Homo sapiens: one gene and its partner. The protein of the gene in region 1 interacts with the protein of each later gene in a pairwise test. Each region holds a gene or a part of one and is shown on either strand. Other genes may lie near its edges. The genes, in order: GSTO2 and PWWP3A.

What was found.
Region 2: the proteins of GSTO2 (region 1) and PWWP3A interact in a two-hybrid assay, tested with the Homo sapiens proteins (one large-scale study listed by BioGRID).

Annotation. Positions count from the first base shown.
Region 1 is NC_000010.11:104,282,681-104,286,497, forward strand, and holds part of GSTO2 (glutathione S-transferase omega-2), read left to right. Parts: intron 1-3,254; coding exon of another isoform or gene 3,255-3,287; exon of another isoform or gene 3,288-3,310; intron 3,311-3,817. UniProt on the Homo sapiens protein: Exhibits glutathione-dependent thiol transferase activity. Has high dehydroascorbate reductase activity and may contribute to the recycling of ascorbic acid. Participates in the biotransformation of inorganic arsenic and reduces monomethylarsonic acid (MMA).
Region 2 is NC_000019.10:1,371,685-1,375,486, forward strand, and holds part of PWWP3A (PWWP domain-containing DNA repair factor 3A), read left to right. Parts: intron 1-1,387; coding exon 1,388-1,476; intron 1,477-2,263; coding exon of another isoform or gene 2,264-2,365; intron 2,366-3,802. UniProt on the Homo sapiens protein: Involved in the DNA damage response pathway by contributing to the maintenance of chromatin architecture.

The DNA of each region.
Region 1 (3,817 bases):
TTTAATTAGAGAGATTTTGAGGAACTAAGATGAGATGAAATCTGAGGAAGGAGTAGGAGTTATGGAGGATGGTTTCCAAGTTTGTGGCCGGTAAATGTGATGCTTTTCACTAAGAGTTTGAGGGAAGACACATTTTGTCAAATTTGTGGTGTTGATGGGATATTCATATGCGGGCAGAGCTTAGAAGAACAATGTATGGTCTCTACTGGACCTTTGGAATGGTTTTATGGGCTAGGAGCTTTCACCAGAGAGTTTAGGAATGTCATTAGTGGGGTGGTGATAAATGTTTAAGAATCAATTTTCTCTTAAAAGAGAAAGAAAAAGAAAAAGCACGGATTTATAGCATTTGCTGATTTGGGTGGTGTAAACACTTCCGTCAAGGTTAATTTTGAGCTACCAATGTGCTATTTCTAAACTCAAGAGCTGGCAAAAGATGTGGGCAGCTCCAGCATGTCACTGAATAAGAAATTTCACTTTATCTTCAATAACTGAGCCCCAGGAACACTGTTGTTAACCAGCCTCTATATAGGTAGCTTTCACTAACCAGCCTCGGTGTAGGTAGCTTTCACTGATGCTATTTAAGGACCACTGAGTACTCCACATTGTCCTAACAGGTTTGAATGTGGTTTTGTCCCATAGAATGTTAGCAAGAATTGTAGCTATGGCTGGGCGTGGTGGCTCACACTTGTAATCCAGGCACTTTGGGAGGCCAAGGAGGGAGGATCACCTGAGGCCAGGAGTTCAAGACCAGCCTGGGCAACACAGTGAGACTATGTTTCTACTAAAAATTAAAACATGAACTGGTCATGGCAGTGCGGGTCTGTAGTCCCACCTTCTCTGGAGGCTGAGGCGGGAGCATCTTTTGAACCCAGGAGTTTGAGCTTGCAATGAGCTATGATCGTGCCACTGTACTCCAGCCTGGGTGACACAGCAAGACTCTGTCTCAAAAACAAATAAACAAAGAATTATAACTACAATGTAGGAAATATTGAAATCTGAAAACATGACCAATGTACTTGAATTATGCGATCTGTTCCTTTAAATGCCAAAATATTTATTCCAGGAGATTCTAGTGAAATTGAAATTTATCAGAATAATTCTAATGGAGAGGATCCCCTGATTTATGTAACTCTTTCACATGGTTTTGCACAATCAGGATTTTTTGTGAGCTAAAAATATATTAAATACTCATTGTCTTTCTGAGTGATAAGCAAGCCAAGATTTCATGCATAATCTTCTGCTATGTTATCCTGAAACAGAAGGCTCAGTTAACCTTTTGTGGCCTTAAACTCTGACACTTTCTTCTTTTGAAATAACTGCCTTGTCTAACTTTTTAAGTTTTTTTTTTTTTTTGGCTTGTTTTTTTGTTTGCTTGTTAGTTTTTTAAATCTAGTTTCAGGTGGGTTCAGTGGCTCATGCCTGCAATCCCAGCACTTTGGGAGGCCGAGGCGGGCAGATCATTTTAATCCAGGAGTCCGAGACAAGACTGTACAACATGGCAAAACCTTATCTCTACAAAAAATACAAAAATTAGTTGGATGTGGTGATGCATACCCGTGGTCCCTGCTACTTGGGAGGCTGAGGTGGGAGGATCACTTGAGTCCAGGAGGTCAAGGCTGCAGTGAGCTATGATCATGCCACTGTACTCCAGCCTGGGTGACAGAGTGAGACTTTGTCTCCAAGAAAAAAAAAATTAAGTTCCATCAAAATCAAAGATTTATTGTGCTTGTTATATAACCACATTTTTCTCTAATATCTTTTACAATTCTTTGAGATATATTACTGCCACTTTTATTATCAAACTAGCAGCCTGCTCACTGGCTTTCCTGTTCTGAACATTGGCATGAGTTTTAAAACTATGACACTTGTCTTGTCTTGCTGCACTTTATGTCTTCAAGCAGATTTTCTAGCCCTTACTGAATCATTACTCTAAGCAGCACACATTTTTTAGTTTTATTCTTTTTCAGGTATTGACTTTCCCATTTCAGAATGGGACTTGAGCCAGGCTTCATTTGATCTTTGTGGATTTGAATGTGGCAGGACCTCTTGGTGTCACTTTTTATCTGTGCCTTCCAAAAATATTTTCATTATGGAAGTAGTCAAATCAAGTCCAAGTGCAGTGAAAGGTGGATTTGGTCAGATTTCCTTGAGGCTTTGGAGTTTTGCTTTAAATCTAGAAAGTGTTCGTGGCTTCTGAATTGGTTCTGCACTCTGACTATTGCTTGGTCCTTTCTTCGTCATCATCAGAGCTCCATAAAAGAGAGCGGGGAGGGGATAACATAAATAATGCTGAAATAGCCCTGAGGGATGAGACATGGCCCAGCAACTGAAGCCTTCGTCTGCCCGTGGCCACAGGGCACTTTATGGTTTTGCTTCTTGTCATTCAACCACCTGCCTTGGGGTGCTTCACTTTGCATTTCCACGCAGAGTTTCCCGCATTGCCAAACTTGATCATGTGCCTTATGTGTAGCAGTTTGCATGAGGTGGAATTTGCATAAATTATGTGTGCATCACCCAGGAGCATCTGTAGTTAAATACTTTATTGATTCTAAATTTTGCCCATAATCTTAATTTTTTAATTATTTTATTTTCTTTTCCTCTTTTAGAGATTGGGGTCTCTCTCTATTGCCCAGGTTGGAGTGCAGTGGCACAGTCATGGCTCACTGTCGTCTTGAGCTCCTGGGCTCAAGCAGTACTTCCACCTCAGCCTCCCGAGTAGCTGGGATTACAGGCTGAAGCCACCGAGCCTGCCTCCGTTATCTTAATTATTATTATAATTATTTTTTTGAGTCAGGGTCGCACTCTGTCACCCACATTGGAGTGCAGTGACACAATCACGGCTCACTGCAGCCTCAGCCTCCTGGGCTCAAGTGATTCTCTCACCTCAACCTCCTGAGTAGCTGGGACCACAGGTTCAGGCCACCATGCCCAACTGTTTTGTTTTTGTTTTTATTTGTTTTAATTTTTTGTGGAGACGAGGTCTCACTATGTTGCTCAGGCTGGTCTTGAACTCCTAGGCTCAAGTGATTCTCCCACTTCAGCCTCCCAAAGTGCTATGATTACAGGCATGAGCCACTGCACCTGGTAATCTTAATTTTTAAACTGTTCTTTCTTCTCATCAAAAAAGACATTTATTCAAGTTAGATTATATTGTCTTGGTTTAGTTTTGCTTTTGCTCTTTCTTAATTTTTATTAATTTCCAGTGATGAAATTATTTATATATTGTTTAATTGTTTCTCCTTTGATATCACCAGGATAGGAAGAAAAGAAAGTTTATACCTGGTTAATTCGTCACTGAAAACAATTTTCTGTATCCTTTTATATATAGTAGACTACAAGCTAAATTTTTTATCATCTAAGTTAACATGTCTATAAACTAAATTCATTATTACTAGCTATTTTTAATAAGTTATTGAGATATAATTCATATGCCACAAAATTCACCCTTTTCCAGTGTACAATTCACTGGCTTTTAGTATATTAAGTGAGTTGTGCAACTATCACCAGTATTTAATTTCAGAGCGTTTTTTTTATCATCCCCCAGAAAAACTGCTCACTTGTAAGCTGTCATTTTCCATTTCTTCTCAATCCCTGTGGCTGTACGCAGCCACTGATCTGCTTTCTGTCTCTATGGATTGACTTATTCTAGACACTTCATATAAGTGGAATCATACAACATGTAGCATTTCATGAGCTATTTTCACATACCATAATGTTCTTAAGGTTCATCCTTCATTCTTTTTTATGGCTAAATAATATTCCATGTGTGAATACGCACATTTTGTTTATCCACATCTGGGAAGGTTCCACTCTTGGA
Region 2 (3,802 bases), on another chromosome or scaffold:
ACTATTTAACTTTATAACTATGGGAATTTTCAAATAGACCCAAAAAGAAAATAGCATAATGAACTCTAATGTGCCCATAACCTGCCTGGAATTATTTTTTGGAGCATAAAAACCCTCAAGCTTTTTTTTTTTTTTTTTTTTGAGTTGGAGTCTCGCTCTGTCACCCAGGTTGGAGTGCAGTGGCGCAATCTCGGCTCACTGCAAGCTCTGCCTCCCAGGTTCACGCCATTCTCTTGTAGCCTTCCAAGTAGCTGGGACTACAGGCGCCCGCCACGACGCCCGGCTAATTTTTTGTATTTTTAGTAGAGACGGGGTTTCACCATGTTGGCCAGGATGATCTTGATCTCCTGACCTCGTGATCCACCCCCCTCAGCCTCCCAAAGTGCTGGGATTACAGGCGTGAGCCACCACTCCCGGCCACAGTTTTTTTTTAAGCCCATAAATACTTCAGTGTGTGTCTCTAAAAGGAGGGTGATTCTGCCCCCTGGGGGACACTGGCAGTGTCTGGGGACATCTGTGCTTGTCACAGCTAAGGGTGCTTCTGGCATGGAGTGGGTTGGGGCAGGGACGCTGCTCAGCACCCTGCAGCGCCTAGGACAGCCCCACCTCAGAGAACAGTCTGGCCCCGACGTCCACAGGGCCGAGTGGGAGAGACTCTGCTCTGAACCGAATGGACTCTGTTAAAAATGTGTTTACCATAATCACAAAAGTAAAAAATAGGGATGATTTCTTAATGTCAGGTATGTATTGTGTATTCAGGATACTCTTTTTTTTTTATAACAATAAACTTAAGGCCGGGTGTGGTGGCTCGCATCGGTAATTCCAGCACTTTGGGAGGCCGAGGCAGGTGGATCATGAGGCCAGGAGCTTGAGACCAGCCTGGCCAACATGGTGAAACCCCGTTTCTACTAAAAATACAAAAATTAGCTGGGCGTGGTGGCGCGTACCTATAATCCCAGCTACTCGGGAGGCTGAGGCAGGAGAATCACCTGAACCCGGGAGGCAGAGGTTGCAGTGAGCTGAGATTATGCCATTGCGCTCCAGCCTGGGCGACAGGGCGAGACTCTGTACCAGAAAAAACCGCCACCAAAAAAAAAACTTAAAATTTTTGAGAAATGCTCTTGTGGGTTTGGGTCTTGCCTTTTCTTCTCTGCTTTTAGTGATCTGAGCTATTGTGTCTAGTCCGAAAGATAGTACTGATTTAATTAAGAAACATCATTACAAGCAGGGATTCATGGACTAGGTTTGCACCTTCTGAACCATGAGCTAGACCATGTCTGGAGGCTGGAACCTGGTGACCCAGGCTCCCTGCGGCCTTCTTAACCGCAGGCCACTTGGGGCCAGTTGGGCAGTGCCTGCTGCTATTGAGCCCCGTGCCCTCTCACAGGCCATCATCTGTGCGATCTCTGCGGTGGACGAGGTGGACTACAAGACGGCTGAGGAGAAGTACATCAAGGGGCCTTCGCTGAGCTACCGGTAGGCCGCTCCCGGCGCTATCTCCAGCCACTTGCGTCTCTGCCTTGCAGTTTCTATTTCCACACCCACAGGCAGTTTGACTCCAGGCTGCCGCAGCCCCTCTCCCTCATGAGGTGGCCCAGGTGCTGGGTGGTGAGCTGATCACATACGCTGAACTCACCCTGTGGGTCACTCCTGCCCCCCAGGAAGGCTGTGCCCGGGTCTCCCAGCTGGTCGCTGTGGGCAGCACGGGGCCACGGGCACGTGCCTGGGCCGTGTCTGTTCTTAATCTCTTTTTGCAGGGGCTGATGTTTGCTTTTTGCACTTTCCTCCCCTCTTTCCACAGCCCCATGGCTGTGTGAGAAATACAGCAAGATTAAGCAGCAGCACGGCCCGGTGCTTTCCAGCAGCCAGAAGAATGCTGTGATCAAGATGTTTCTCTCACATCCGTGTGCTTAGCTGCCCTTGGATGTTTGGCCCCCAGAGCGCCTAATCCTGTCTCTGGGCATGCGGCCAGGCCTTGCTGGGAGCCAGGCGGGGCCCACGGGGCAGTGACAGGCTGAAGACTCAACTAGAGTCAAGGACAGGGTCTCCGGCCAGGGTGGCTTGCGCAGCCACCGACGTCTCCCGGGCCCACAGTCACAGGAGACTCCTGGTGAAGACACTGAACTCCCTCACCAGCCCCATGTCCTCCCTGGGCAGGGCAGGAGGGGCCCCTGGAGAGGCCAGGGAGGAGGTGTGGGGCCTCGGTGGCATTGGCAGGCCACCCCCGCAGAGCTGCACAAAGGTGGAATTTGGCCTTGTTTAGGGAGTGTTGGCCCAGCTGGCTTACCAAAACAGGAAAGGCCTTTGGATACAGAAACTGGGTGTTTTCCTGCTGGATCTTCATGGTTCCCCCGTCATGCTTGCCGTAAGAATAAGTGAGGTCCGGGGAGGGGGTAAGGTCGGAGCCAGGACACCTGGACCCAGCCTGCTGGTTTGTCCTCTCCCTCCGTCTCAGAAGCCTCTTCACCGCTCCACGCCCATCTGTGGAAATCTTTCATCCTGATTTTTTTTTTTGAGTCTGGGTTGCCGACATCAAAACCCGTTAGGAGTTCATCACAGCTTCCAGTTGCCATGAAAGCCTCCCGTGACCTGTGAGAATGGTGCTGGTGCTGATGGAGAAGTTACTTGGGCTGAGCACACAGGCCGTGATTTCATCACGCCGGGGACATGCTCAAAATAACAAGCCAGTGAGCAGCATCGCACTTGATCTTTGGCCTCAGTGGAGCCTTGGGTCACACACTGGGCGTCCTGGGACCCAGTCTCCCCGCCGCACGGCGTTTCCCAGGCCCTCTTGTTCTTTTAGAGTTGCACCATGAGCCTCTCTGCACTCTTCCCAAGGCTGTCCTCCTCAGGTCTGCCTTTCTCTGGTGCTGCGGCCGGTGTGCTCTCCCCTATTTCCAGGTCTGCTGGGGCGCACATCAGAGCCAGCAGCCGTTGTTGATCTCTTTTGATCCAGGGCAGCCCTATTGCTGAGAGGGGTTGCTAGCTAAGCAATTGTTATAATTTTCCTTTACAGGGAGGTCACTTAGTAAGGACAATTTGGCATCTCATACTCTTTCGTAAAAAATTATTTTTAGTCAGTCACAGTGGCTCATGCCTGTAATCCCAGCACTTTGAGAGGCTAAGGTGGGAGGATCCTCTGAGCCCAGGAGTTTGAGGCTGTAGTGAGCCATCATTATGCCACTGCACCCTAGTCTGGGTGACAGAGCAACACCCTGTCTCTAAAAATAAATATTATTTTAAAACATTGTTAAGGCCTGGTGCGGTTGCTCACGCCCATAATCCCAGCACTTTGGGAGGCCGAGGCAGGTGGATCACGAGGTCAGGAGTTCGAGACCATCCTGGCCACCATGGTGAAACCCCATCTCTACTTTAAAAAAAAAAAAAAACCAAGCATGGTGGCACGCGCCTATAGTCAGTCCCAGCTACTCAGCAGGCTGAGGCAGGGGAATCGCTTGAACCCGGGAGGTGGAGGTTGCAGTGAGCTGAGATTGTGCTACTGCATTCCAGCCTGGTGACAGAGCGAGACTCCGTTTCAAAAAAAAAAAAAAATATTACACATCCTGTAAAAGTTACCATCCTAACCTTCTTAAGTGTATGGTTCGATGGCGGTGAGCACTTTCACAGTGCTATGCAGCCGGTACTGCTGCTCATCTCCGAACTTCATCTTTCCAAACTACAGCTCTGTCCCCATCAAACAACTGCCCTCTCATATATATATAATATATATTATATATATAAAATATATATAGCCATATATATTTATATATAATGTATATTATATAAAATTTATATATTATAT